Homo sapiens: one gene and its partners. The protein of the gene in region 6 purifies or fractionates together with the protein of the main gene of each other region. This does not show direct contact. Each region holds a gene or a part of one and is shown on either strand. Other genes may lie near its edges. The genes, in order: ADNP2, NKAP, NPHP4, SFXN1, PRPF40B and MYEF2.

What was found.
Region 1: the proteins of MYEF2 (region 6) and ADNP2 purify together in Homo sapiens (affinity purification with mass spectrometry; one large-scale study listed by BioGRID and IntAct). This does not show direct contact.
Region 2: the proteins of MYEF2 (region 6) and NKAP purify together in Homo sapiens (affinity purification with mass spectrometry; one large-scale study listed by BioGRID and IntAct). This does not show direct contact.
Region 3: the proteins of MYEF2 (region 6) and NPHP4 purify together in Homo sapiens (co-immunoprecipitation; one large-scale study listed by IntAct). This does not show direct contact.
Region 4: the proteins of MYEF2 (region 6) and SFXN1 purify together in Homo sapiens (affinity purification with mass spectrometry; one large-scale study listed by BioGRID and IntAct). This does not show direct contact.
Region 5: the proteins of MYEF2 (region 6) and PRPF40B purify together in Homo sapiens (affinity purification with mass spectrometry; one large-scale study listed by BioGRID and IntAct). This does not show direct contact.

What each region holds. Positions count from the first base shown.
Region 1 is NC_000018.10:80,115,105-80,120,340, forward strand, and holds part of ADNP2 (activity-dependent neuroprotector homeobox protein 2), read left to right. Parts: intron 1-2,425; 5' UTR 2,426-2,438; coding exon 2,439-2,546; intron 2,547-2,562; exon of another isoform or gene 2,563-2,581; intron 2,582-5,236. UniProt on the Homo sapiens protein: May be involved in transcriptional regulation. May play a role in neuronal function; perhaps involved in protection of brain tissues from oxidative stress. May be involved in erythroid differentiation.
Region 2 is NC_000023.11:119,923,462-119,928,452, reverse strand, and holds part of NKAP (NF-kappa-B-activating protein), read left to right. Parts: intron 1-3,058; coding exon 3,059-3,233; 3' UTR 3,234-4,991. UniProt on the Homo sapiens protein: Acts as a transcriptional repressor. Plays a role as a transcriptional corepressor of the Notch-mediated signaling required for T-cell development. Also involved in the TNF and IL-1 induced NF-kappa-B activation.
Region 3 is NC_000001.11:5,985,107-5,990,342, forward strand, and holds part of NPHP4 (nephrocystin-4), read right to left. Parts: exon of another isoform or gene 1,691-5,236; intron 1,586-1,690; exon of another isoform or gene 1,519-1,585; intron 1,222-1,518; 5' UTR 1,184-1,221; coding exon 1,049-1,183; intron 1-1,048. UniProt on the Homo sapiens protein: Involved in the organization of apical junctions; the function is proposed to implicate a NPHP1-4-8 module. Does not seem to be strictly required for ciliogenesis. Required for building functional cilia.
Region 4 is NC_000005.10:175,502,560-175,506,059, forward strand, and holds part of SFXN1 (sideroflexin-1), read left to right. Parts: intron 1-3,500. UniProt on the Homo sapiens protein: Amino acid transporter importing serine, an essential substrate of the mitochondrial branch of the one-carbon pathway, into mitochondria.
Region 5 is NC_000012.12:49,625,492-49,630,727, forward strand, and holds part of PRPF40B (pre-mRNA-processing factor 40 homolog B), read left to right. Parts: intron 1-5,053; coding exon 5,054-5,134; intron 5,135-5,236. UniProt on the Homo sapiens protein: May be involved in pre-mRNA splicing.
Region 6 is NC_000015.10:48,156,712-48,161,947, forward strand, and holds part of MYEF2 (myelin expression factor 2), read right to left. Parts: intron 3,094-5,236; coding exon 2,902-3,093; intron 2,212-2,901; coding exon 2,058-2,211; intron 1,514-2,057; coding exon 1,464-1,513; intron 1,346-1,463; coding exon 1,282-1,345; intron 1,188-1,281; coding exon of another isoform or gene 1,069-1,187; exon of another isoform or gene 416-1,068; intron 1-415. UniProt on the Homo sapiens protein: Transcriptional repressor of the myelin basic protein gene (MBP). Binds to the proximal MB1 element 5'-TTGTCC-3' of the MBP promoter. Its binding to MB1 and function are inhibited by PURA.

The DNA of each region.
Region 1 (5,236 bases), on a different chromosome or scaffold from region 6:
GGCCGTATTGTAAGAGCATGTGGGTTGGAAGGTATTGTGTGTTTGGAAAATTCACTTTGCCACAGGTTGTATCTGTTACTTGATATATGCCCACATTGTCTCGTATCTGGCCTATGGGAGCCCTTTCAAGCTGGTTACTTCTGTGTTCTGTTGACATGCCTCATTGAGCAACTGCTTTATATTCCGGCACAGGATGTTCTAGGCTCATCTTGTCTTTACCATGCTCCAGCCATTTTTCCTAGGGTTCTTTTTAAAGGAAAGCGGTATTTAGGAATTCAGGTTTGAGCCCTAGTTGTGCCCACTGCTACTGGGGTGTATAACTGCATCCAGGCACTCTCAGTGGGCAGAGCTATGGAATGTATGTGTGTATGTGGACACACACTCTCAAACTATCTCTATTCTTCTATCTGTGTGTTGAAAACAATGAGTTCACTTCAGTAACCCCTAGTCTGGTCAAGTACTACAGGGTTTATTTTAATTTTGTGCCTTTTTAGATATTGTTTTAAACAGCTTGAGATATAATTTATGTACCATACAATTCACCAGTTTGAAGTGTACAGTGAATGGCTGTGGGCTCATTCACATTGCGTATACATCACCACAGTTGAGTTCAGAACGAAGAAGCCCTGCTTCCATCACTTCCCAGTTCTCCCAGCCCTGGCAGCCACTGTTGTGCTTTTTTTTTCTGGGGACGGAGTTTTGCTCTTACTGGTCAGGGTGGAGTGCAGTGGCGCGACCTCGGCTCACTGCAACCTCTGTCTCCCAGGGTCAAGCAATTCTCTTGCCTCAGCCTCCCGAGTAGCCGAGATTACAGGTGCCCAGCTAATTTTTTGTATTTTTAGTAGAGATGGGGCTTCACCATATTGGCCAGGCTGGTCTTGAACTCCTGACCTCAGGTGATCCACCCACCTTGGCCTCCCAAAGTGCTGGGATTACAGGTGTGAGCCACTGCACTCGGCCCACTGTTGTGCTTTCTATGGATTTGCCTGTTCTGGACACTTCACATAAATAGAATCATACAATATGTGGTCCTTGTGTCTGGCTTCTTTTACTTAGCATATTTCCAAAGTTTGTCCATATTGTAGCATGTATGTATTTCATTTCTTTTATGGCCAAATAATCTATTGTATGGATATGTCATATTTTATTTATCCAGTCATCAGTTTATTTATCAAATGCCCCAATGCAGGGGCATTTGGTTTGTTTACACATTTTGGTGACTGAATAGTGTTGTCATGAACATCCTTATATAAGTTTTTGGGTGGATGTATGCTTTTCTCTTGAGTGGAATTGCTGGTTCATATGTTACCTATATTTTTAATCTTTTGTGGGACAGCCAGACTGTTTTCAGGCACACATGAAGACTGGCTGCACTGGTATACATTACTATTAGGAATGTATGAGAGTTCCAATTTCTCCACGTCCTTGCCAACACGTTTCCTTTTTTTTTTCTTTATAGATATCCTGGTGGGCACAGTATCTCTTTGTGGTTTTAATTTGCATTTCTCCAAATGGCTAATGATGTTGAGCATTTTTTTTTGTTTTGTTTTAAGATAGGGTCTCACTCTGTTGCTCAGGCTGGAATATAGTGGCGTGATCAGACTCACTGCAGCCTTGACCTCCTGGGCTCGGGTGATCCCCTCACCTCAGCCTCCTGGATAGCTGGGACTACAGGTGCGCACCAGGATGCCTGGCTAATTTTTGTATTTTTTGTAGAGGCAGGGTTTCACCATGTTGCCCTGGCTGGTCTTCAACTCCTGAGCTCAAACAGTCTGCCTGATCTGTGTACCTCAGCCTCCTGAGCTGCTGGAATTACAGGCGTGAGCCACTGTTCCCTGCCTGAGCATCTTTTCATGTACCTTAGTGGACATTTTTCTTTGGAGAAGTGTCTATGATCCTTTGCCCATTTGTAAACTGGGTTATCTGTGTTTTAATTATTGAGATACAAGAGTTATCTGTATTCTGCATATAAGTTCCTTATTAGAAAGGAATAATGGTTTGCAAATATTTTCTCCCGTTTTGTGGGTTTTTTGCTTTTTTGATGGTGTCCTTTGAAGCATAAAAATTTTTAATTTTGGTGAAGTCCATACCTATTTTTTCTTTCATTACTGGTGCTTTTTGGTGTCCTATCTAGGAATTCCTTGCCGAATCTAAGGTCATCAATGTTTATGCTTACGTTTTCTTATAAGAGTTTTATAGTTTTAGGTCTTACATACAGGTGTGTGATCCACTTTTGAGTTAATTTTTGTATATGGTGTAAGGAAGAGGTCAACCTCATTCATTTGCATATGAATGTTCACTCGTTCTACAACAATTTGTTGAAAATTATACTCTATTCCTAGTGTTTTACCAACCCTGTCAAAAAATGTATTTTTGTGTATTATATACATGTACTTATTACAGTTTTGTTTTCTTTCCTTTTAAGGAAAATTTCAAAAATGTTTCAAATTCCTGTGGAAAATCTTGACAACATCAGAAAGGTGCGAAAAAAGGTGAAAGGTATTCTTGTGGATATTGGGCTTGACAGCTGCAAGGAGTTACTGAAGGTAAGAGGACGTAAGTAGCCAACTGGAATCTGGAGGTGAGATTTGAACTCGGGTTTTTGAAGAGTGGGTAAGATTCCTCAAAATGGAAATTGCTGTTATACTTCAGATGGCTGTGTGAAAGCCTCATTAGTACTTATTTATGTCTTTATGACATAAAGTGAGCTATTTAAGCTGTTCAGGTTTTTAAGCTACTTTAAGGAGGGGATTTTTCTAGTCATTAGTTACTAAAAAATTGTTTTTGATGTTTGAGGGAAATGTGATTTGTTATTTTAGCAAAAGAAAACTAACTTAATTTCCCAGTATTGTTAGAGCAATCAACAAATGGGCATGCATAAATGAAATGATAGGGTTTTTTTTAATCCTGATTTGTGTAGTTGTATATGTGATCTCAGAAAAGTTTTCCTAAAATTTTGTCTGTCCTTATAACATTGAGAATACATAGTTGGCATATATAGTTTTAAACAATGTTAAATAAAAGTTGTTGTATATCCTGGCCGGGCATGGTGGCTCACGCCTGTAATCTCAGCACTTTGGGAGGCTGAGGTGGATGGATCATTTGAGGTCAGGAGTTCGAGACCAGCCTGGCCAACAACATGGTGAAACCCTGTCTCTACTGAAAATACATAAATTAGCTGGGTGTGGTGGCGGGCGCCTGTAGTTGCAGCTACTCAGGAGGCTGAGACACAAGAATTGCTTGAACCTGGGTGGCAGAAGTTGCAGTGAGCCGAGATAGCACCACTGCACTCCAGCCTGGGTGACAGAGTGAGTGAGACTCTGTCTCAAAAAAAAAAAAAGTTCTTATATATCCTTGTAGTCATTGGTAATGACATTTTTGTCTCGTCTAATCATTTATAGCCTTGCTTTCCCCTTCATTAATAAATGTAGTCTAGGATCAGGTATGTATTTGGTTGTCATGTCTCTTTAGTCTCCTTTTGAGGTCAATTCAATCTTTTAAGGTGGAATTCTGTTAGGAAATTTGTTTTATTTTTAAGTAACATGTCAGTAACAACAAAAGTTTTTCATCCTAGAGTCCTTTGTTTTTGACTTGACTGGAACTGAACATTGCTCGTGAACTTTTGCTTCCTTAGCCTGAGAATGTGTTTACTCTTCTGAAGTTCTTCACGGCTGTTTACTTTTTTTTCCCAAGACTTTACTGATGCAGAGATACGGTACTTCACAAGGGAAAATTAAGAGATTTGAATGGCTTAAACTGTTAATTAGATTAACTGTTGAATTAGTAAAACTATTTTGGGGAGAAAATTTTATTTGTAATTGGGCCTATAATGAAATTTTTGAAAATTCAAGTAATACAGAAGTTTTTTATAGGAAAATGAGAAAACAGACACAGAAACAAGACAGTAAGACTCACGCGTAAACCATTACCCTGAAATATCCAGAATTAACGTTGTTATATATCTATAGATTTTTAAAAACGGGATATATTCACATTTTTTTTCTTAAAAGGATATAATCAAATTGTATAAGCTACTGCACCAGCTGTTGTTTCTTTTTCACTGAACCGCATAGTGAGAACCTTTTTCCATGTGAAGTGCGTTTATTCTTAATCCACCACAGCAATTAGAGTTCTTTGTTTTCAAGCAGCAGAAACCAATCTGACCAATTTACACAAAAGGAGATTTATTGGAAGCCTCTTGGGGGGCTTAGGCAGGAGAATGGCATGTACCCAGGAGGCGGAGCTTGCAGTGAGCTGAGATGGCGCCACTGCATTCCAGCCTGGGTGACAGAGTGACAGACTCCGTCTCAAAAAAAAAAAAAAAAAAAATCCAAGCTGACTGGAGAACCAACCCTGTAGAGAGAAAGAACCAAGGAAACTACCTGTCCATCGTCCTCACTGCTGCCTTGCTCTGTATTTCAGATTTCAGAGTGGTATGTCGCTCTGCCTTCTTGTAAGATTTACACAGCACATGTGACTTCAATCTTAGCAAGAGTTAACACCTCCAATAGGAGGCTGTTCTTGTCAGTAGCCTGGCTGAGAAAAGTAAGCCCTAGGAAAGGTAGACTCTTCCACGAATCTAATATTTTCTAAACTATATCTAAACCCTGCTGCACATAGAAACTCTTTAGGAGTTGTTTTTTATAAAAATTAACATCTGATCAGAAATTAACATTGGATCTGGGATGGGCGAGGGACCCTTGTCAAGTTACCTGCCAAACATACCTTGGTGCTGCCAGTGCAGGACAGGAATGGTTGCCACCTTGCTGCACACTGAGATGCCACAGCAAGTGCATTCAACCACCTCCCCCCCAACCCCCAATCTGTGCCAGCCCCCAACTTGGGACTACAGTGGAATGTGGACCTCTTGACAACTTGGTACAGTCCCAGGTGGAAGATGTGAGTGAGAGAGTGGTTATAGGGGTGGGGACTGGGAGGAAGGCTGAGGCCAAGTGGGCTTTGGGGTGAGGGCAAGGCAGAGAGCAGTATCAGACCTGGCCCTGGAAAGGGTAAAGGAGGCAGACCATGTGTGAGCTGAGGCTCCGAGCCCTTGGCATATGCTCCATGTCCCATCAGAGTTCACTTTTATAATATAAAACACAAATTCAAAGATAGATTGTTAAGAATTCACGATGGTTACCACTGAGCATTAAATCCCTTGAGCACAGGCTTTGTGCAGCTGTGCTAGTTGCATGCCCATGGAGCTGGCCCTGACTGGTATATTCTTTTCTTTTTT
Region 2 (4,991 bases), on a different chromosome or scaffold from region 6:
TAGTACACAAAAATCCATTGCATTTCTATTTACCAGCAACAGACAACTAGAAAATGTAACTAAATAAGAAGAAAACATTTGTAATAGTATCAGAGAATATGAAGGACTTCAGAATAAATCTTAACAAAAGATGCCCAGGGCTCTGTGAGGAAAACTATAAAACATTATTAAGAGATTGTGTATTCAATACAGTTCCAATAAAAATGAACTGCATTTCTATTTACTAACAACAGAAACCTAGAACCTTGAACGTTTATAACAGTGTCAGAATATGAGAGACTTAAGAATAAATCTTAACAAAAGATGCCCAAGGTTCTATGGGGAAAAATGTAAGACATTAAGAGTCCATATCTTCAATATAGTTCCAATCAAAATCACAACACAGTTGTTTATGAGACTTATTAAGCTGGTTCTAAAATTTATATATTACACTAAAAGGACAAGAATAGCCAGGTCACTTCTGAAGAAGAAGAGCAAGAAGGTAAGATTAAAGAAAACTTAAATAGCTGGAGAGATACCAGGTTCACGGATAGGAAGGCAATATTGTAAAGTTGTCATTTCTTCCCAAATTGATCTTTATATTCAATACAGTCCCAATCAAAATCAGAACACAGTTTTTCATGAAACTTAATAAGCCAGTTCTAAAATTTATATACTAGACTAAAAGGACAAGAATAGCCAAGTCACTCCTGAAAAAGAAGAGCAGGAAGGTAAGATTTCCCCTACAAATAGGAGGACTTATTATGAAGCTTACAGCACTTTAGAAAGCATAGGAGAACAACTGAATTGTTCAGTGGAATAAAATTCAGGCCGGGCGTGGTGGCTCATGCCTGTAATCCCAGCACTTTGGGAGGCTGAGGCGGGTGGATCACCTGAGGTCAGGAGTTCAAGACCAGCCTGGCCAACATGGTGAAACCCCATCTCTACCAAAAATACAAAAATTAGCTGGGCGTGGTGGCTAGTGCCTGTAGTCCCAGCTACTTGGGAGGCTGAGGCAGGAGAATCGCTTGAACCCATGAGGTGGAGGTTGTAGTGAGCTGAGACCTCGCCATTGTACTCTAGTCTGGGCAACAAGAGCAAAACACTATCTCAAAAAAAAATAAAATAAAATTCAGAGCCCAAAGATAACCATACACGTATGGAACTTCAGTGTATGAAAGAGATAGCATGTCAGATCAATGGGGAAAGAAAGAACTATTCAGTACATGAAATAGGAGGCTGAGGCAGGAGAATCGGTTGAACCTGGGAGGCGGAGGTTGCAATAAGCCGAGATTATGCCACTGCACTCCAGCCTGGGTGACAGAGGGAGACTTGGAAGTTAAATCCACTGATAAAAACTGCTGTTCAATTACAGATTTAGACTTGGTTCTTTTTTTTTTTTTTTTTTTTTTGAGACCTAGTTTCACTCTTGTCTCCCAGGCTGGAGTACAGTGGCGCAATCTCAGCTCACTGCAACCTCCACCTCCTGGGTTCAAATGATTCTCCTGCCTCAGCCTCCCAAGTAGCTGGGATTACGGGTGCCCACCACCACACCCAGCTAATTTTTGTATTTTTAGCAGAGACGAGGTTTCACCACGTTGGCCAGGCTGGTCTTAAACTCCTGACCTCAGGTGACCTGCCTGCCTCAGCCTCCAAAAGTGCTGAGATTACAGGCGTGAGCCACCATGCCCAGCCTAGACTTGGTTCTTTTGGTTTTATGGTAAAGTAGAACCTTGAAGGAAGTTCCATCTGATTAATGACTAGTTAAATGTTTTATCTATCCTACTTCCAATTCCACAAAGGCAAATGGATATGTCACCTAGGAAGTTTAATAATTTGCCCATTTCTGATTGTTTTACTGGAAACAAATTAGACGTATACCCTTAGTATTTGAAATTAATGATAGCGGCCAGGCATGGTGGCTCACACCTGTAATCCCAGCACTTTGGGAGGCCAAGGCAGGTGGATCACCTGAGGTCAGGAGTTCGAAACCAGCATGGCCAACATGGCGAAACCCCATCTCTACTAAAAATACAAAAATTAGTCGGGCGTGGTGGCACACACCTGTACTCCCGGCTACTCGGGAGGCTGAGGCAGGGGAATCACTTGAGCCCAGGAGGCAGAGGTCGCAGTGAGCCAAGATTGTGCCACTGCACTCCAGCCTTGGTGACAGAGCCAGACTTTAAGACTCACAAAAAGGAGAAAAGAAAAAAGGATAGGCCAGGCGCGGTGGCTCACGCCTGTAATCCCAGCACTTTGGGAGGCCGAGGTGGGTGGATCATGAGGTCAGGAGATCGAGACCATCCTGGCTAACAAGGTGAAACCCCGTCTCTACTAAAAATACAAAAAATTAGCCGGGCGCGGTGGCGGGCGCCTGTAGTCCCAGCTACTGGGGAGGCTGAGGCAGGAGAATGGCGTGAACCCGGGAAGCGGAGCTTGCAGTGAGCCGAGATTGCGCCACTGCAGTCCGCAGTCCGGCCTGGGCGACAGAGCGAGACTCCGTCTCAAAAAAAAAAAAAAAAAAAATTAAAAAAAAAAAAAAAAGAAAAAAGGATAACATTTACTATGTTGACAGGAAATCAGAGATCATTATTTGAATAGTGGAAATGAATCAAAGACATATCAGGGCCGGGCACGGTGGCTCACGCCTGTAATCTCAGCACTTTGGGAGGCTGAGACAGGCGGATTACTTGAGGTCAGGAGTTCGAGATCAGCCTAGCCAACATGGTGAAACCCCATCTCTACTAAAAATGCAAAAATTAGCCAGACCTGTTATCTCAGCTACTCAGGAGGCTGAGATGGGGGAATTGCTTGAGCCAGGGAGGTGGAAGTTGCAGTGAGCCGAGATCGTGCCACTGCATTCCAACCTAGGCAACAGAGCAAGACTCCATCTCAAAACAAAACAAAAAAAAAGGACGTGTCAGGCAGCTAAAATATTAATAAATGATCTTTTGGAAATTTAACCCATTTCAATTTTTGTCAGCTGTTAAATAGACCACTCTGGGTAAGAAAGGATTAATGATGATGTACTATGAAAATAATTACTGAGAAATTAAGCCAAAAATAAAATTCTCTCCAGGCATCGCCGAATGGAGGCTGTGCGACTGCGAAAAGAGAACCAGATCTACAGTGCTGATGAGAAGAGAGCCCTTGCATCCTTTAACCAAGAAGAGAGACGAAAGAGAGAGAACAAGATTCTGGCCAGTTTTCGAGAAATGGTTTACAGAAAGACCAAAGGGAAGGATGACAAATAAAGATTTTCTGATTGTCCAGAAGACATTTTTAACAACAAAAAAGAAAGTCTGGGTTCCACACATACATAGAAAAAGATTATTATGTTCTGAGAAAGCTTTACAGTGCTACTGTGCCTTCTATTTAATTCTTTCAGTCCTTCAATAAAAAGCTGCTTATTGATATAACTTTAGCAAGTTCTTTGGGTTATTTTGGATTGACCATAGTAACTTTCTGGTTTAAAAATCCAAATTATGGGCTGGGCACGGTTGCTCACGCCTGTAATCCCAGCACTTTGGGAGGCTGAGGCGGGTGGATCACTTGAGGCCAGGAGTTCGAGACCAGCCTGGCCAACATGGTGAAACCCTGTCCCTACTGAAAATACAAAATCAGCCAGGAGTGGTGGCGCACACCTGTAGTCCCAGCTACTCGAGAGGAAGAGGCAGGAGAATTGCTTGAACCTAGGAGGTGGAGGTTGCAGTGAGCCGAGATTGTGCCACTGCACTCCAGCCTGGGCGACAAAGCAAGACTGTGTCTCAGAAAAAAATAAAAGGCCAGGCACGGTGGCTCACGCCTGTAATCCCAGCACTTTGGGAGGCCAAGGCGGGTGGATCACCTGAGGTCAGGAGTCGAGACCAGCCTGGCCAACATGGTGAAACCCTGTCTCTACCAAAAAATACAAAAATTAGCCGGGCGTGGTGGTGGGCGCCTGTAATCCCAACTACTCGGGAGGCTGAGGCAGGAGAATTGCTTGAATCCAGGAGGCGGAGGTTGCAGTGAGCCGAGATTGTGACATTGCACTCCAGCCTGGGCAAGAAGAGTGAAACTCTGTCTCAAAAAAAAAAAATCCAAATTATGAATAAAATGCTACTGTATTGGAGGAGGTGGCTTGAACAAAAAGTGTTAGTGAGATGAGAAACTTCAATCTCACACCATGAGACAGTGCTACTATTAGCTCTATGTGATGCCTGCCCCACCCCGACCTCTACCCCAGCTGAACTTTTGGGAAATTATCACTCCTCTGTGTTGAATGTGTTATAAATGGACTTGATAGGAACATATAGGAGGCCACTTTTGTTAACAAAATGAAGGCATTGCTGCGAAAAGCAAATCTGGAATTTGAAAACTGACTTGTGTACTATAATATATGATCTACCCTGGAAATAATGGGTTTTGATTTAAGTCCCTACCTCCACTCTAAAACCAACAAACAAACCAAAAAGCAAACTAACCCACAGATTTGTTGAATTGAAAATGTGAACATTAGATATTTTAAATTGTTTTTTTTGAGATGGAATCTCGCTCTTGTTGCCCAGGCTGGAGTACAATGGGGTGATCTCGGCTCACCACAACCTCCACCTCCTAAGTTCAAGCAGTTCTCCTGCCTCAGCCTCCTGAGTAGCTGGGATTACAGGCATGTGCCACCATGCCTGGCTAATTTTGTATTTTTAGTAGAGATGGGGTTTCTCCATGTTGGTCAGGCTGGTCTCGAACTCCCAACCCCAGGTGATCCGCCCGCCTTGGCCTCCCAAAGTGCTGGGATTACAGGCATGAGCCACTGCGTCCAGCCTAAATTCTTAATAAGTTACTTAAAAATAGTTATTTGAAATATAAAGTCTTAAGAAGTCTACTCTTATCCCCATGTAAATACTTTATTTCAATCTGAGCTGATATGAGCTTGAGGATAGGATAACATCCAAAAGAATAGGAGTCAACTATGGTCAAGAGTTTTGATAAGGAAAAATATAATGAGTCAGTATTTTAGCTTAATTGTTTCATAA
Region 3 (5,236 bases), on a different chromosome or scaffold from region 6:
GGCTTGGAATTGAACGATATAGAACATCAGTGATTTAATAATAGTAAATTAGTCACAGACCCGGGGCTCCAACAACTGAATATATGTGAATATCACTCTCCCAGCTGCAGAGGAAAACGGCCTTGCCAAGCCAAATCCTGTAAAAAGGGTTGACAATGGCAAGACTGATCCTTCTCACGCATTCCCACCGGCCACTGGGCCTCACGAGGACAATCCAATCGTGTGGGTGTCCCGTGGGCAGCAGCACAGAAGCACCAGCTTGTCCAGCAGGTTCCCCGCCAGCTGAAGGGCACAGATGGATGTGCCGCCATCAGGGCCTGGGCCTGAGTGTGCCCAAGGCCGTGGTACATCCAGCCACGCACAGAGCTGCCAGAATGCCCGTAGCTCAGCCCCTGCAGTCCTCACTGCCAGGCTGAAAGCGGGCCATGCTGAGCCATGCACAAGGCCACCTGGCTCACAAATAACCCAGGAAATCAGAGTACTTGGGTTTTTAAATTGCTCCACTGTGGGCAGAAAGAAACCCTACCCAGAGTCAAAAGTGCTGACCATGTCATTGAATCATAGATTCTCTTTGCTGATGGGCCACTTTGCATCCGAATACTGCCAAGGCCCAAGGTAATGGGTATGGTGGTATAAGACTCAAACGAGTAAGTGAAAATCAATACAGATGCTCTTTGACCTATGATGGGACTCTATCCTGTTTAAGTTGAAAATGTCATAAGTTCAAATGCATTTAATACCCTTAACCTACTGTACATCAGAGCTTAGCGTGGCCCAGCTTCAACATGGTCAGAACACTTGCATGTTCCTACAACTGGGCAAAGTCATCTAACACAAATCCTATTTTTAAATAAAATGTTGGGTATCTCCTGTAATATATTGAAAACAGCACTGAAAGTGAAAAACAGAATGGCTATATGGGTACCACCATAAAGTAGCAAAATCAAAAATCAAAGCATCGTAAGCCAGGGACCATCCATCTGTTAACTGGAAGCCTCATGTCAGCTAAGAGCAATAACACGCATTTGCTAACAGCACATTTTGTTACCTGCCTAATTACCGGTCCGTCCAGCCACTTGAGGACACACTGGAATGCCGTGGATTCCTTCCAAGGCTGGCGCGCTCTCTGTGGGTGGGGAGGGACAAGCACGTTTTGGGTGAAGATCCTGTGCCAGTCGTTCATCCTGCCCGCCTGAGGGTCCCGTGGGCTTCCCGGATGATCTGTGCCAGTCGTATTCAAATAAAGAGAAGAGCTGTGAGGGCTACAGTGGTCACAGCAATCCTGAAGGCTTCTGCCTCCCACTAAATCCCAGAGGAACCTCCATCCCCCAAACCCACACTCTGCAAACCCCAGAAGAGTGGACTTTGTTGCTGGCTGGCACCCATGCTGCCTCCTCTAGGAAGTACCATTTGCATTTCAAAAAGGAAAAATAAACGTAGATATATTTATTTGTATTTGCTTAGAATTTATGAAAGCTGTACAATAACACACTGTATCTAGGGTGATACACCAGGTACCTGGGGTCAACATGGGATGATTCACTTTTCCTGTGTATCCTTGTCAACTTTGAACTATGCGAATTACCTTTTCAGAAATAAAAATAAAATGGAGAAATAAAATCTACCTCCAGAGAACCCTCCGCCCCACCCCTACCCCCGTGGGCCAGACTCAGGGCACGACTCTCCTGACCTCTGTGGCTGGTTCCGGATGGGGACATGAAGGGATGTTTTATTCAGCTGTGTAAGTTGGATACCACACAAGGACACCAGGGGTGGGTGGCTGCTGAAATACAGTCCTAGCGTTAAGACTGTCTTGTAGGGGACCCAGGGAGCATGAGAGAGGGAATACAGCCCTTGGGCCAAGAGGTGGTCAGCCTGAAACTGCCCGGGGCCACCTTAGGACACACATAAAAACAAGCAGAGAGGAAAAGGTAGGAGTGAGGGCCACTGGGTCCCCATGTCATTATTAGAGACCTCAGTTGGTCACCCCACGACACTTCAGCTACATGAACAAAGTCTCTTGTTGCTAAAGCCATTTGGGGACAGGTTTCAGGTGTTACCAGCTTCTTGGTGGGTCTTGGCCCGTTTTGAGTGTTATCTGATCCTGTCCAGCCAGACCGGGATCTAAATCTTCTCTAGCCAACACAGAATCCAAAGATCTGAACCTCAAGAAGAGGTTGAATTCCGTAAACTAAAATGGCGAGTAAGGAGAAAAAGAAGTGGGTTTGGCCTTCTAAGACAGCAGCTCTCTAAGTACATTCCCCAAACCCAAGGTTCAACAGGATCCTGTCAGGGGCTCTACAAGGTCAAAACTATTTTCATGACACCCAGGTGTTATCTCTTTCACCATGGTGGCATGGTGGGGCAGAGGCAGCAGCAGGGAAAGCCACTGGGGCCTCACTCAACCCAAGGCTGGTTGGGTTGAGTGAGGTCCTCCCAACCTCTCACAGAAAAGAACAAGGCAGCTTCAAGTAAGAACATCCTTGGTGAAGCCGGAAAAACTATTAATCTTATTACTTCTTGACCTTTGAGTACACACGTTCTTAATTTTGTGAGACGAAATGGAAAATACACAACAAGCATTTCTGCTGCAAACTGAAAGGCAACAGTCATCCCCGGGGAAGCCTGGCTGTGACTGGGCTGCATGCTGAACACACCGCTTTTATTATTCAACACCATTTTCACTAAGAAGAATGACTGAGAGACAAACATGGGTACTTGGCAGACATCTTCTCAAACGTGAACAAAGTTAGCATGTCACTTCCGGGAAAACAACTGCAACAAAAATGGAGTTTCCAAGCAAAAATGAGAATTAAGAACATTTGTATCCTCTACCATGAGCCTACTAGCTTCACACTTCTTCAAGACTTTCCTGATGAGAGGGGCAGTGATATAACGTGATCTTCTAAGGTTACACCATTAAATGTGTCAATAGTTGGAAGGTCTGCATGACTCCGTGAACCAATATTTTCTGAACAATGCGTAATGGTACAAAATCCTGCAAGAAGAAAACATCCACCCAAAGTGCAAGACAGACCAAAGGAGTTTAATGTCAGAGCACGAAGAGTTCATTCACATGGTGGAGACTCTGCTTTAGAACAAATCCTTAAGAAACTTCTGCTCGTAGGGTTTCAATGCAGCAGCAAAGAATATCCACAATGACCCAAGAGACTCCTCCCTAACTAGATCGGGATGGATTTCCTTCACATACTTCAACCAAGGCAACACAAGGCAACAGACTGAGTACAGAAGCAAACAGGAGCCTTCAGCTGTCCTCTCTTAAGGAGACTGTAAAGATATTTGCAAGAATGCAAAAGAATCCCACTCTTCTAAATTTTTTTTTGTTTTGGATAATATAGTTGGTTTTTGTAAAAAATGTTTTTATGTTAACATGTCACAGCCTTATTTTTAAATAAATTAATATTTTTAACATTTCTCAGTTTTAACTTCTATGGCAGTAAACATTGGTAGATATAACTCACATAAACAAAAGTTCTTTGGGGTCCTCAATAATCTTTTAAAGGGTAAAGGGATCTGAGACCAAAAAGTTTGAGAAGGGTTGTGCTAATGGTTCACCCCCTGCATGCTCCCGGCATGTGTGGGAACCGAGAGGACATGACCAGGCAGCCTGAGAGGGGCCTTGGCCCAGGGTCCCGCCTCCACCCACAGTGCACCCAGACGCTGCATCCTTGGCCCAGGGTCCCGCCTCCACCCACAGTGCACCCAGACGCTGCATCCTTGGCCCAGCGTCCCGCCTCCACCCACAGTGCACGCAGATGCTGCATGTGGGCCAGGTATTCCTGAGGACCAGACTCAGTCTGGTCCTGTGTGAATCCAGCAGGCACACATGCTGGTTTGTTCCTTTTTGTTCTCTGTGGGCTATTTTTGTCGCTCAACTTCCCTTGTTTTGTGGAGGACCCTGACCCAATTCCATGTATGGGGAGAGCTGCTCCCCGATTCCAGCCAGAGACTGCAGTGATTGCTTCAAGGAGGAACACATGGCCCACACTGAGCCATCAGTCTTCCCCGGGAGACTTGAGCCCAGGATGTCTCTCCTCCAATGCCCACAACTGCCCACACCATGCCAGCCCAGAGCCCCAGGAGCCACCACAGGGAGAGCCGACTTTGGACTTCTGACCGGCCTAACTGGAAAAGAACAAATTTGTGCTACTTTTAAGCAACCAAGTCTGTGGGACTTTCTTACAGGAGCCACAGGAAATCATACAGCTGTCCACGACTTATAAGCAGAAGACACCTGACCAATACCAGCTCAAGGGCCATCTCCCCCAGGAGGGCTTCCCAGGTGCTCCCAGGGTCCAGGCCCCAGGCTCACATGGCCCCTGTGCTTCCCTTGGTCACATCATTCGTCACCTATCTTGTGTTGAATTGCTCGCTGGCCAAGTTCTTGAAGAAAGAAGCCTCATTCCTCCTGTGTTCTTGGTACCGTCACAACTCAGTAAATGGTCACGGAACCAAACAGAAGCTTTAGCAAAGCTACCCTCAAGCTTTTCTTTCCCACTGATGTTTTATAACATTCAGAAATGTATTCACACACAATGCAGGCCGTGATGGCCCCAGGTGGGGATTTCAGAGAGGAAGTCTCTCCTGACGCAGATGCCCATGCTCCTCACCTGCCCCAGATTTCTGACCCGGTGCCTCCTGCCCTCTCCCTGGGTGTCTGCAGGACTCAGTGCCACACTTGGCCCAAGGACACTGCTGAAGGACGTGCATACGCCAGTCGACCCTCACAGGGAGCATGAAGCATGCCGGCCCCCTGCTGTACTAGGAGGGCAGACACTAGGCGGAAGGGCATCCATTCCGAAAGCACCTGCCACCCACACGGAAGTCCTGAGGCTCGGGATGTGGAGGCAGGGCAGTCCTAGTCTGAGGGGCCACGGAGGCCGAGGTGACACCTGAGACTCTGCAGGTGGGAGCCCAAGCGCCCGCAGCAGCTCTCACTGCCATCCCAGCACCTCACAAACCTCTCCGGGTGCCCTTCCACCTGCTCCTTGCTCCTTTCCACCTCTGCTCTGGCCTCTAGGAGTCAAACCAAATGCTCCCTCCTCAGAGCGAGAGCCCCATCCCCCACCTCCGGCTGCTCCCACACAGGGCAGGTGACAGAAGAGCCACCACGCTTCACCAGGGCTGTGCTGTAGTCCTGCGAGACTGTGAGCTCCATGACACCAGGCTGGGTCTTCAGCAAAAGTCTTTTAAGGATGAAATACAAATGCCCTGG
Region 4 (3,500 bases), on a different chromosome or scaffold from region 6:
CCGGGCACAGTGGCTCATGCCTGTAATCCCAGCACTTGGGGAGGCGGAGGCGGGAGGATTGCCTGAGCTCAGGAGTTCAAGACCAGCCTGGACAACATGGAGAAACCATGTCTCTACTAAAAATATAAAAAATTAGCCGGGCATGGTGGCACATGCCTGTAATCCCAGCTACCTGGGAGGCTGAGGCAGGAGAATCGCTTGAACCCGGGAAGCAAAGGTTGCGATGAGCCAAGATCACGCCATTGCACTCCAGCCTGGGCAACAAGAACAAAACTCTATCTCAAAATAATAATAATAATAATAATAAATAAATAAATAACTGGTACATCCATCCATCGAACAGATTAACCAACTCATATAAACAACAGGGTGCTTCTCAAAAGTGTTATGCAAAGTCAAAGAGGTCAGACACAAAATACACAAAATATGTATCTACTCACTGTATGATTCCATTTGTGTGAAATTCTTGAAAAGGTAATATAGTGTTAGAAAACAGATCCATTGGTTGGCAGGAAGTGAGGAAATAACTCCAGAGGGGCCCAAGGGAACTGTTGGAGACATGGAAATATCCTGTACCACAATTCCGGGGCGGTTACACCACTGAGTATATTTTTTCAAAACTTAGCAAATTGGACACTTAAAGTGGATGACTTTTATGGTATTTAAATTATACCTCAATAAAGCTGATTTAATTTTAAAATGTTACAAGATCATAGAAAAAAAGGAAATGCTTCCCGATTCATTGCAACCCTGATACAATAAATGATTTAAAAAATACAAAAAGAAACAGTGGCCTGTCTTACAAATTGATAATGCAAAAATCCAAAGTAAAACACCAACACATAGCATCCAACCTTGTGTTAAAACATGAACTGGTAGAATTTATTCCGAGAATGAAAAGGTGATTTATATTTAGGACATTTATTAGTGTAATTTATCACATCAATATGTCAGAGCAAAAAAGCCACATCTTGATAGATGCCCAAAAGAAGGTAAAATTATATATCTATTTCCCATAAAATAATTAATCAGCTAGGCATAATGGGTGGTACTTCTTTAATTATGAAGAATGCATATCCCACATCAGTAGTGAGCAATGCACGAAATAATGGAACACTAGAGCTGAACTTCCCAAAAAGACCTCTAAAGGAAAGGAACCCTGGCCGGGCGTGGTGGCTCACGCCCATAATCCCAACACTTTGAGAGGCCAAGGCAAGTGGATCACCAGAGGTCAGGAATTCGAGACCAGCCTGGCTAACATGGTGAAACCCCGTTTCTACTAAAAATACAAAAAATTATCCAGGCATGGTGGCACGCACCTGTAATCCCAGCTACTCGGGAGGCTGAGGCAGGAGAATTGCTTGAACCTGGGAGGTAGAGGTTGCAGTAGCCGAGATTGCGCCATTGCACTCTAGCTTGGGAAACAAGAGTGACACTCCATCTCAAAAAAAAAAAAAAAAAGGGATCCTATGGAATACTTAAAGAAAGAAAAGAGGGGGGTGGGGGAAGGGAGAGAGGGATCAAGAGAGGCAGAGAGAAAAAGGGAGAGGATTTTGGTAGTCAAATTTGAGAAAGTTTGCATTCCACTCTTGAGAATGTCACATTCTATTAACTGTTCGAAGTTTCCAAAAAGTCCAGGAGTGAAAATAAAGCTGCTTAATCATTTTTCCCAAACTTGGACATGAGCCCTTTGTTTTTTTTCCATAATGTATGTAATATGTATGAGAATACTCGGCCAGGCGAGGTGGCTCACGCCTGTAATCCCAGCACTTTGGGAGGCCAGGGCAGGCAAATCACCTGAGGTCAGGAGTTCAACACCAGCCTGGCCAACATGGTGAAACCCCGTCTCTACTACAAACACAAAAACTAACCGGGCGTGGTGGCGCACACCTGTAGTCGCAGGTACTCCAGAGGCTGAGGCAGGAGAATCGCTTGAACCTGGGAGGTGAAGGTTGCAGTGAGCCAACATTGCATAACTGCACTCCAGCCTGGCAACAGAGCAAGACTCCATCTCAAAAAAAAAAAAAAGAAGAGACCATAACCAACTGAACAACCATAGAACAAATTAAAATACAATGAGGGGGCTATTTATAATAGACACAATGGTAGTTTCCTGTATAAAAGCAACAAGCAATTAGACATTGTTTTTTATTCACTTCATAAGAACAATTTTTTTTGGGCGGGGAGGGTGCGGAGTCTTGCTCTGTCGCCCAGGCTGGAGTGCAGTGGCGCGATCTTGGTTCACTGCAAGCTCTGCCTCCCGGGTTCACGCCATTCTCCTGCCTCAGCCTCCTGAGTAGCTGGGGCTACAGGCGCCCGCCACCACGCCCAGCTGATTTTTTGTATTTTTAGTAGAGACGAGATTTCACAGTGTTAGCCAGAATGGTCTTGATCTCCTGACTTCATGATCCACCTGCCTCGGTCTCCCAAAGTACTGGGATTACAGGCATGAGCCATCGCACCCGGCCAGAACAATTTTTTAAAAATGTAAAGTACTTGGGAAGAAACGCACCCAGAAATTTGCGTCAATGATGAAAACATTTGGAATCATGTTAAGTTTGAGTAAATGGAGAAATGTGCAGTAGGCCTGGGGAGAAAGGCTGGAGATTGTAGAGGTGTCAGTTGTCTCCAGATTAATACGATTTCAGTCAAATTACAACTGTGGTCACCTGTAAAACTGATAAAATAATTCTGACCGGGTGCAGTGACTCATGCCTGTTATCCCAGCACTTTGGGAGGCCGAGGCAGGGGCATCACCTGAGGTTAAGAGTTCAAGACCAGCCTGGCCAACATGGTGAAACCCCATCTCTACTAAAAATACAAAAAAAAAAGCTGAATGTGGTGGCGGGTGCCTGTAATCCCAGTTACCCAGGAGGCCGGGGCAGGAGCATTGCTTGAACCCAGGAGGCGGAGGTTGCAGTGAGCCAAGATCACGCCATTGCATTCCAGCCTGGGCGACAAGAGTGCAACTCCATCACAATAATAATAATAATAATAATAATAATAATAATAATTCTAAGGTTTATCTGGGAGAATAAATTAGTATAAGGCATCTTAGAAAAAGAAAAAGAAGAATAGCGTGTGGGACGGTTGCTCTACCCAAGATTAAAATTGACTGTCAAGTTAAAATGGTGGGTATTGGCATCAGAATATGTAGATAAGTGGAAACACAATAGAAAGTCTAGAAATCAAGGCTGGTATTCACAAACTCTCAACTGATGCAGGCCAGCCAAAAGAGAAAGTTAAGAATGTTTCACATTTTCTTTTCTTTTCTTTTGAGACTTAGTTTCATTCTTGTTGCCCAGGCTGGAGTGCAGTGGCACTGTCTTGACTCACTGCAATCTCTGCCTCCCGGGTTCAAGCAATTCTGCCTCAGCTTTCCGAGCAGCTGGGATTATAGGCGCCTGCCACCATGCCCAGCTAAGTTTTATATTTTTTAGTAGAGATGGGATTTCACCATGTTGGCCAGGCTGGTGTCAAACTCCTGACCTCAGGTGATC
Region 5 (5,236 bases), on a different chromosome or scaffold from region 6:
TTCCCTCTTTCTGTTTTTTTTCCTACTGCCTCTCCATTCTTGTCCTTTTCTCCTTTTATTCTTCTGAGTGCTAAGTTCTGAGATGCCCCTTAGATGTGAAGTCCCAGAAGTATTGATTGCATCTTTGGTGGTGGGAAAGGGGTGGCCCCTCACTGGCCCAGGTGAACATATGATGATCAGATGATCAAGTGTCTCTTCATCATCTCTCAGCCCACAAATGTGTTTTTGTTCCAGGGAAGACACAGGATCTGCTTCTCTTTCAGCAACCATTTCTATATCCTTCCCTGTCACTAGTTAATGTCTTCATATTCTCACCCAGAAATAAAATAAGACCCAAAGTTTTATGGCACTGCAGCAGGTAGGAGAGGGACGGGGTGTTTCAGGAAAGCAGGGACACAACACGGGAAGCTCAGCGAAGGAAGGGCTTTGGAAGTTCTGTAGTAGTTTATGTTTATTCCATTGTTCTGTCCTCTGTGGGGAACTGTCCAGAATAGGCCAGTGTCTGAATCCTGGCCAGAGGTCTTCATCCCAAGTTGAAGATGACTGTATACAGTTAGCTTTATTAGGTTTTCTCATGCCAACATTTCAATCCAATTTCCTTTTTCCAAGCCACAAAGACTTCTGCCAAGCTACCTCTCTCTGTCACAGCCTGTATGTCAGAGAATTTATACAGATGTACATATGCACACGTGTATACACTGTTTTCAAAGTGCATTTTAGGATATTCCAGTATGCAAAAATCTAATAAGGTTAGAGATGAGACTGCATTTTATCACAGCACTTTGTGTGCAGGGCCCTGACTAAACACTTGGGGGAGGTATAAAAGGAGAAAACTCAATCCCTGAATGTAGGGAAATCCCCACATGAGTGGGAGACAAGCAGTCCCACATGAAACACCCAGCAAACATTCACAGAGTAGCATGTCACTCTGCAAAGTAGTGCATCATTTATCCTGAAGGGACACAGGTAGGAGTGTGTGTATGTGTGTGGGATAGTCATAAGGGTAACCTGAAGGAGGTGAATATTGGATCATCTTGAACAAAGCATGAGACTGTAGAATAAAAGAAATGTGTTTCACTTGAGGGTAATCTAACAATTCTGTGCAAAGAGAGGAGGAGGGAAGCCATTGAGTCAGGATGAGCAAAGAAGAGTGTGGGGCGGCCTTCGTTGCAAGGCTTTGACTGTTAGATGAAAGATTTTGTAGGGTAGGCAATCGGGAACCGGTAAGTTCTCAATAAAACGTTGAATCATTGGTGATTTAACCACTTAGGTTGCAGGGGATATACTAGATTGCAAACAGACCTGTTTCATGTGGTAGGAGCTTTGCTTTTAAGGGAGGAGGGCTAGAGGGCAGATTGGATCCAGTCCCAGTTCTGTCCCTAACCAGTGGTGGCTCCTTGGACAGATTATTCCCTGAAAAAGGGGGATACCTTGGGTGACTGCCAGAGTCTCCTCCAGTTCTGACATTCTATGTTCCCTGAATAACTACTAGACCTAACTTACCAGTGGCCCCCTACTGTTTTGTAGGACTTGCCAAGACCATTTAGTCATTCAGTTAACACATACTTATTAGCACCTAGTTTGTACCCATAGATGGTGGTAAGGAAAACACAATGGGAACTGGATATGAGGTGAGCAAAAACAGATGAAGTCCCTGCCCTTCAGTGTTTTCAGTCTAGTAGGGGCCACGGATATTATATTTCATTAATTCTGAGACTCATATTTGAACATTTGTCAAGTCAGGATGCATCTTCAAATTGACAGGATATTATAATTTAATTGGCAGCATTTGTTTTTTATTCATGCCAAATAGAAAAATAATATAATCAGGATTATACAAATAACTATAAAATTCTAATGGATAATTGCCGAAGGAGAAGGTACATGGTGTTGTACAAGTATATAAAAGCGGGCTCTGACTAGTTCAGGGAGTTGGGAAAAGCTTTCGTGAAGAAATGATTGGTAGATGTGAAGTGTAGTAGGCAAGGTGTGTGGGGTTGGCAGGGCCAACCCAGTTTTCTCAGGCAAAGGTGGATGCCTGAGGTGGGAGAGCTGAGAGAAGGTGAGTAGGGCTGGAACTGAGACCCAGGAGCTCAGCATGGGGGAGATTGGCAAGGTAGCTGGGTAGCAGACCCCCTCATAGTACTGGGTAGGGGGTTTACTATTTACCCTAAGAGCAGTGGGAAGCCATTGAAGAGTTTTAAGCAGGGGGCTAACAGTCTGAGGTGCACTTTGAAGAGCTTGTTATAGCTGCTGATTGGAGTGGATGTGGGGAAAACAGTTGGGAGGCCACTGCAATTAGATGAAAAAAGATGGTGGCTTGGGCAAGATGGGTGGTGGAAAAGGAAATGGAGAGAAATGGATAGATTCAAGAAATCTTGAGGAGGTAAAGTTAACAAGACTTGGTGATTTATTGGCAAGGAAGAGGGAGTTGTGGAGAGTGACTCATAGGTTTCCATTTGGACAATTGAATGGTGTGGTGCCAGTCTCTGAGACGCTTCTGAGGCTCCCCTGGAGCCTGGTAGGACCCAAAGATGTTAGAGAGGCTCCTGAGGCAGCTTGAGATGGGAAAGTGTGACACAGAAAATTGTATTTCCTCCACTATTGATTAGTTTCTGACTTCCCATGCTGAGGAAAGCGTCAGGGGCAAGAGCAAGTCTGAATACAGAACTAAAGCAGTTGAGCACTTAGAAAAGATGAGTCACATTGGAGAGGTTTAGCTCATACCCTTTTCTTCTTAGGACAAGATGAAGGACAGTTTGTTGTTGTTGTTGTTGTTTTGTCTTTTTGAGAGTGTCTCACTCTGTCACCCAGGCTGGAGTGCAGTGGTGCAGTCTCAGCTCAATGCAACCTCCGCCTCCCAGGTTCAAGCAGTTCTCGTGCCTCAGCCTCCCCAGTAGCTGAGACTACAGGCGTGTGCCACCACACCTGGCTAATTTTTGTATTTTTAGTAGAGGTTTCACCATGTTGGCCAAGCTGGTCTCGAACTCCTTACCTCAGGTGATCTGCCCGCTTGGCCTCCCAAAGTGCTGGGATTACAGGCGTGAACCACCGCACCAGGCCAGGAACAGTTTTTTTTTTTTTTTTTTGGAGACGAAATCTCGCTCTGTCGCCCAGGCTGGAGTTGGAGTGCAGTGGCGCCTCGGCTCACTGCAAACTCCGCCTCCTGGGTTCACCTCATTCTCCCACCTCTCCCGAGTAGCTGGGACTAAAGGTGCCTGCCACCACGCCTGGCTAATTTTGTTTTTGTATTTTTAGTAGAGACAGGATTTCACCGTGTTGGCCAGGATGGCCTCGATCTCCTGACCTCATGATCTGCCCTCCTTGGCCTCCCAAAGTGCTGGGATTACAGGTGTGAGCCACCGTGCCCAGCCAGGAACAGATATTTTAAAGGCAGACATGAAGGGCGTTTTTAAATGCTGAGCATTCTCAACATAGGGGAAATTGGCAGCAGTGAGGTACCTTCTCTTCAGCCAGATACCACCTTTCCCCGGGATTCCTCCCTATCACCCCCTAACTTTCAGGCAAAGAGGCAGAAGGGCTGGGCCCTTTAGCTGCATCTCCAAGCCTCGGTTCACTTACAGTGAGTTTGTTTGTTTTTGAATGGGCAATATAGTCATATGGCTGCGTATTCAAAAGATACAAAAGCCATACAGGGAAAAGTCTCCCCTTTATCTCTGTCCCTTTCTACCATTTCTTGTGTATCATCTTTTGTCTCTGACTTTTATACAAATGATAAAAGTTTGCTGCACCTTGCTTTCTTTCCCACTTGTTAATACATCTTAGAGATCATATCGAGACAATAAGCTTCTTCATTCTTGTTTATAACTGTATAGCACTGCATTTTATGTGTATATATAATTTCATAGCTCCTTACTGGTGGCTATTTAGGCTGATTCCAATCTTCTGTTTTTACAAATAATACTGAAATGAAAACCTTAAACATACAGCATTTTGGCCATGTAGGGCTATACCTATAAAATTAATTTTTAGAAGTAGAAGGTTCTATATAGAGATTTGTTCTGTTTGTTCTTCGTTCGTTCAATATTTGCTGAATACCTATTATGTGCCAGATGCTGGTAGGTACCAGGAATACAGCTTCCAACAAGTCAGATATGATCCCTGTCTTCATGGAATGTTATTACACTCTTGTTGGGGAAAACATATCCAGGCAAACATAATAATTACAAAATTATGTACATGAGGAAACTAAAAAGGGGATCAGATAGAGAAATAGGAAGGAGCTACTTTAAATACAGTCAGGAAGTTGTCTTAAAATAAGTGATACTTAAGCTGAGAACTAAAGGATGGGATGCAGACAGCCATTAGGGGTAGGACAGGGCAACCTAAGCTGTTCAAAGCCTACATCCACAGGGAGATAGTTCAGGATTTGTAGAGGAGGGGATGGACACCAAAAAGGGGATGGAGATAAAGCCAAAGAGATGAAGTTGGCGATTGGAAGTGGAAGATGTCAAAGAAAGTAGGTGGCTAAGGATGAGGTCAGTTAGGGGAGGAAGCTGGTCATGAAGAGATGAGAATTAGGGAGACAAGCATTTTAAAGGACTAGCGACTATTTGTGTTGAGAGAGCTTTGGACTGAATCTCTGTAACTGGGATAATTAGGGGAACTAGAAAAGAGGCGACTCCCTCCCTAGATACTTTGGGAATAAAAGAGACCTCTAACTTATTTGAGAGAGGCACAGCCTTGCCCACAGGCAGGATAATGGATTAGAAGCCTTAGGTAGAGCCAGTCTGTGCCTGTAGTGAAGCCTCCTTCATCTTTTCTGTTGCTTTGACAAAATGGAAACTTTCAAAATAAAGATGACATTCAAGGGGCTCAGCCAGCTGGCTCTGAGCTGGCACAAGAGAGAGCAAAAGCACAAGAGAGAGCAAACCTACCAAGGGCTAAGGGCTTGGGGTGGGCAGGAAATCGGGCTTGAAGACCCTCCTGAATTTTGTGCTCCTTTTTCATCCTCACCACTTCTGCTTCCCTTCTGCAAAAAGCCCATCTCTGTGCCCATCCTGGGTCCTATGACTTTTCTCTCCCTCAACAGTCGGTTCCCGATTCTGGTCCCCGGCCCCCAGCAGCGCCTGCCCCCTTCCCACCGGGGCCCCCCATGATGCCACCACCCTTCGTAAGTTTTATGTCTTTCCCTGGGCTTGGCTTTTCCAGCCTGCACCCCCAACTCCCCAGCCCCTAGCCACTGCTGCATCACCAGCACAGTTTTCCTGTAATG
Region 6 (5,236 bases):
GTATCAGCAGTTAAAATGAAGAAACTAGAGCTACATCTATCAACATAAATGAATCTCAAAAACAATTTAAAAAAAAAAGCAAGTTACATAATACATTATGATATCACTCAAACAAAATTTTAAATCCAACAAAACAATTCCCTATGTTTATGGATGTACAAATGTGTAGTCAAATTATTAAAACCTAAATGATAAATACTCTATCCATAAGTTGTTTCCTCTGGATAAGGCATAAGTTGAAAGATGGGCAAGGGAGATGGGGAAGCTCCATTTTACCATAAAATTTTATTTATTTTAAAGAAAAAAATCTACAACAAATATGGCATATGATAACTATATGAGTAATTTTACTTTTGTCTGTATATTTAAGATTTCTTATAAGAATACTTTAAAAACCAGAGAAGATGCAGTGAAATAGTAAAAACAATAGCTAATATTTATTGAGTGTTTACATTATGCCAAAATGATTCTAAGTGCTTTACATATATTAATTCATGTAATACTCATGTCAACCCCATGACGTAGACAATATTATTCTCCCCACTTTTCAAAGGAGGCACTGAGACACAGAGGCACTGAGACACATAATACAATAAGTATATTACACTGTTATAGTCATTTTGGAAAACAATTTGATAATACTAACCCATGAGAACTGTAAATCTACTTCAGAATATCTGTCTGAAGGAAGTACTCAAAAACATTACAAAGATTTGTGAACAAAAAGGCATGTGTTACTCTGTGGTTACTCAAAAGAAAAGTTAAAACACCTAAAATACAGAACAGTGAAATAGTTATGGAACATCTATATGATAGACTATTATACTACCAATAAAAATATTTGAAAAGAATCTTCAACATGAAAAAATGCTTATACTCTAATGTTAAACAAAAAATAATTCAAAATTATTTTTGTTCCCAACTATGTAAAAAATATACATAGCAGGCTAGAAGAAAATACACAAAAATGTTATAATGAGGTTACCCACAGATGGTGAAATTACAGAGGACTTTTTTTCCTTCAAGTGTATAAATTTACCAAACATTTTAGAATGTATTGCTGATTAGTCAGGAAAAGTTACCAAAGAGAAAAAAAAAATGGCACGTAACACTTATCTTCTCAGTCTTCCTAATCAATAGCGCCAAACTATCTTCATAACTCCAAACTAATCCCAAATTGTGAGAAACTAGGATGTAGGCACAAAAACAAAGTGTTGCTTAGCACATAATAAAACAAACCAAAAAAAGCCTATGTTGTTTCTCATAATAGCTTTTACTTACGTGGTAATTGTGGTGTTTTACCATCATGTGAACGGTACTCTTCATGAGGAACAGACTTGTCATCCTAATTGCAAGAAAGTTTATAATATGGTTAACATATTACCACAAAGAACTGTAATGTAGAAGAGAGCCAATAAAAGATCTGAAGAGGTTGGAGGTTGAAGTGATATACAGGAACTCACCATTTTCACATGCATAGGTCTATCAAATAAAAACTGCCCATTGAACATAGCTGTTGGTTCAGTCAAGGAAAGTCAGTTAAGATAACTATAAAATTATAACAGAACACAAACTAATTTTTAATAATCTTAGAGTCCAACTCTCTGATATTTTAATTAACATCTTTAATACTTATTGATATTAGCCACTTTCATATACTCAAAAAAATATTCAATTCTTTGCTTTACGGTTTTATTTCATCAATAAGATGTATTTTTAATTCAACCATTGAAAAAAGTAAACTCGTAAGGCTTCGCTTAAAGTAACTGCATTAATATACAATAGATTACACAATTGTTAAATCCATGTATACAATTAATTGTGGTAGGAAGAAAGAAAAGAAAAAACTTCATACCAGCCCTGTACAATATGGCCAATTCAAGTTTTAAGAGTGACTTTAATACTTGGACCTACTAAGGGTTTTATTTGCTGGAGACTAAAGTCTAACACACATCTCTAAGCCAGGCAACCTTAAATTCAATTACCCCCCGCCAAAACAAAGGTGGTATTATGCTTCTTCAACCTCATAAACAATGCTGAAATGTAAATCAGGATACAAATTGCTTGAACTGCTTCAATTGCTTGCTCAAAAGTGACAGTGCCCATTCCTCTGCTCTTGCCATCTTTGTCTTCTTTAATATCTGCCCGCTTCACAGTTCCAGCTATGCTGAACACTTCCTTTAGCTTCTTCCAACCAACTTTGAAGTCAAGCTTAATATAAAATTGTATAAAGTTACATACCTAATAAATCCATCTCCCCATCTGTAAATACAAAAAATCTTTTCTAAACTCTTAAAACCATAAAGAACCATAATTCTAGTTCAACAATATATTGATAATGTTCAAATTTTAAAACATCTTCAGTTGCTTAAAATCATTTAAGCTACGTCTACATTGTTCCTTATCCTTATTTTTTTTAATTTCCAAAATCATCTCTCAACTGCTCAAACCTGTTTTGTACATTTGAAACTTGCATATCTATTTTTACCAAGAGAAATCCAGATTTTGAAAAGTATTGTTTTCACTGACTTTCAGATGCTTAGAACAAATAACAAACCAACTATGGCATGCATATTCACAAATATCAAGACTAAAAAAAGAAATCCATTTACCAATATAAACCAAAACACATATAATTTCAAGAACTGCTTGAATGTGTATAAACTGCACAGTTCCATGTTTAAAAAATCCAAATAGTTGTATTTAAACTCTAACCTTGTGCGTGTGTGTGTGTGTGTATATATATGTATATACGTCAATTGATTTTGAGTTTACAATAATTACTATTTCACTTACTTTAGTTAAAAATAAGCAAAATGTTCTATAAACCTATAACTCATTCATTTAATCAAATTAGCTATCTATCTGAATGACAAATTTTAGACTAAAGCTTGAACTTACATTGGCAACAAAAATTGTGGAACCAAGTCTACCGGCCTGCAAATTACTGATGACTTCAGGAGGAATGTTTGGATTATTGAGTATGGAAGGTGGTAAATTCATCAACCCTGATCCCATATCAGGGACGTGTCCTCCTGGAAATGATCCTCCTGTTCGCTGCAATGCCCTACGAGCATTTTCTCCATCAGGATCCTATAACACACATTGAATGTTAAATTCCACTAAATACATCACTAATTCTACAAAATTAAAATAACAATTTAAATTCTACAGTAGCTATCCTGTCTGGCTCAAATTATTGACCCTCTTGAAGAGTGAGCTTTTTTCTCATCCAGAGAATTGAGTCCCATAAAAACCTGTGGATAAACAAAATATTTCAGCCTCCAGAGATGTCAGTTAATTTTTTTTTCCAATCACTAAAGCCACTTAAGAACTTGAAATTAGTTTAATTTTGCTCTCACACTAGGGTACATGCATACATACATGTAACTCAAAGAAGAGCGAAGTACTCACTGCAACTTTTCTTTCCAAAATGTAGGAATGGTCATTTCTCACTATTGGATGCCCAATGGAATGCCAAATTCAGACTAATTCAAAGCTTTTCAATACTGGAACAGACTGTTATAAAACCCAAATACTGGGGTAGAGGATAGGATGGCCGACTGTAATCTGTAAATTTTATTCCTGAACAAAATACAGTTACCCACCTTCTAAACTCTTACCTTCTTCAACAATGATTATAATCTGAGATGGAGGAGAGGAGAGATAAAGGAGGGCTAAATGTCCAAGTGAGAAATGATATTAAACATTGTTTTTTTGTTAGGTTCATTAATTTTTTAAGAGAAACACCCTACCTTTAAACAAAACCAAACATACACACACACACACACACACACACACACACACAAACATAAATGTACTTCTCACTCATCCCACTAGGTGGAATACTAAAAAACAAAAATAAATAAACAAAAACCACATAAACACATGGATAGACTATCATCTGCAATGCCAAATGATTATGTTAAAGGTAATCACCCCATCATCACTTCTCTATCTTTAGGCTAAGATGAAGTGTAAAGGTAACCATCAAATCTACTTTGCTGGCCTCAGTCTGGGAATACAGTACTAATAAAAAGAAAGTCAAGTGATTTTAATAAATTCTCTAGGATGGCTGGAGAATAAAAGGTGAAAAGGTAAAATAATAAAACCATTCTGGCTTGCAACATATTTCTTCACTATGAAGGAATAAAAAGGATTACAAAAGAAAAAAAAAATGTATCAAAGAATGCTTCAAAACATATAAGTTAATAAATAAATTCTTTAGGCCTGAGGATTCAAAAAGAGGTAAAAATACGAAATTTAGGACAGTGGCTACCTATGGGGAAGAAAGATAACTCAGAAGAGAAGATATTTCTTCAACTAGTATAGTAAGCTATTTCGGTTGTTTGTGCTTATAACATTAACAAGATGTATTGCTGTGTTGATCTGTCTTTTATATACATATATATGACAGAAATATATACACATACAATACATGCATACATACATAAAACATATATAAAATAAAATTTATATAAAACAAACCACCTACTATATAACATGACTTTTACTCTTCTTTTCCCCTTGCTGTCAGCCTGCTGGTTACTGACTGCTATTGCTTTTGGAGGGCCTACAATAGCAGTTTATAACTGCTACTATTCTGCATTTAATTAAATGAAAAAAATGTAACTCTAAAGTCTGTTAAGGAACATTGGAAATACACCTTCCTTAGACTTTCCTCAGTAGCAGTTCTAAGCATTCATTCCATCCACCCCTCTATAAATTAGATATCCCAGGAAAGGGACTGCCAAAGTGACATTAATTCAAAAAAGTCAACTGAATAAATCCCTCATCATTTAGCTAGGCCAAATTTAGCCTTTTTTTTTTCTCTTAAAAAAGTTAAAAATGGCGGCATCCTCTTTCAACTTGGATTATATAACTCCAGGGTCTCTGAAATATTACTGAGGATCTACAATGTGCTGAAACTTAAAAGAACACAATAACATGATATTTAGCATCCAATATTATATGGAAGTTTATTGGATGATATTTAGCATCCAATAAACTTTTTTTTCCAATAAAAGAAAAAGACACTAAGAATCTGTAGTACATGTCCTTTGAAGAGAAACAGAAAACATAAAACAGAAAATTGTCAGGTTGGTGCAAAAGTAAATGCAGTTTTTGCCATTATTTTAATTCAAAGCTTTTTTTAATGGCAAAAACTGCATTTACTTTTGCACCAACCTAATTTAATCCTCAAAATAATCATTCTGATTATTATAATTTAAAGAAA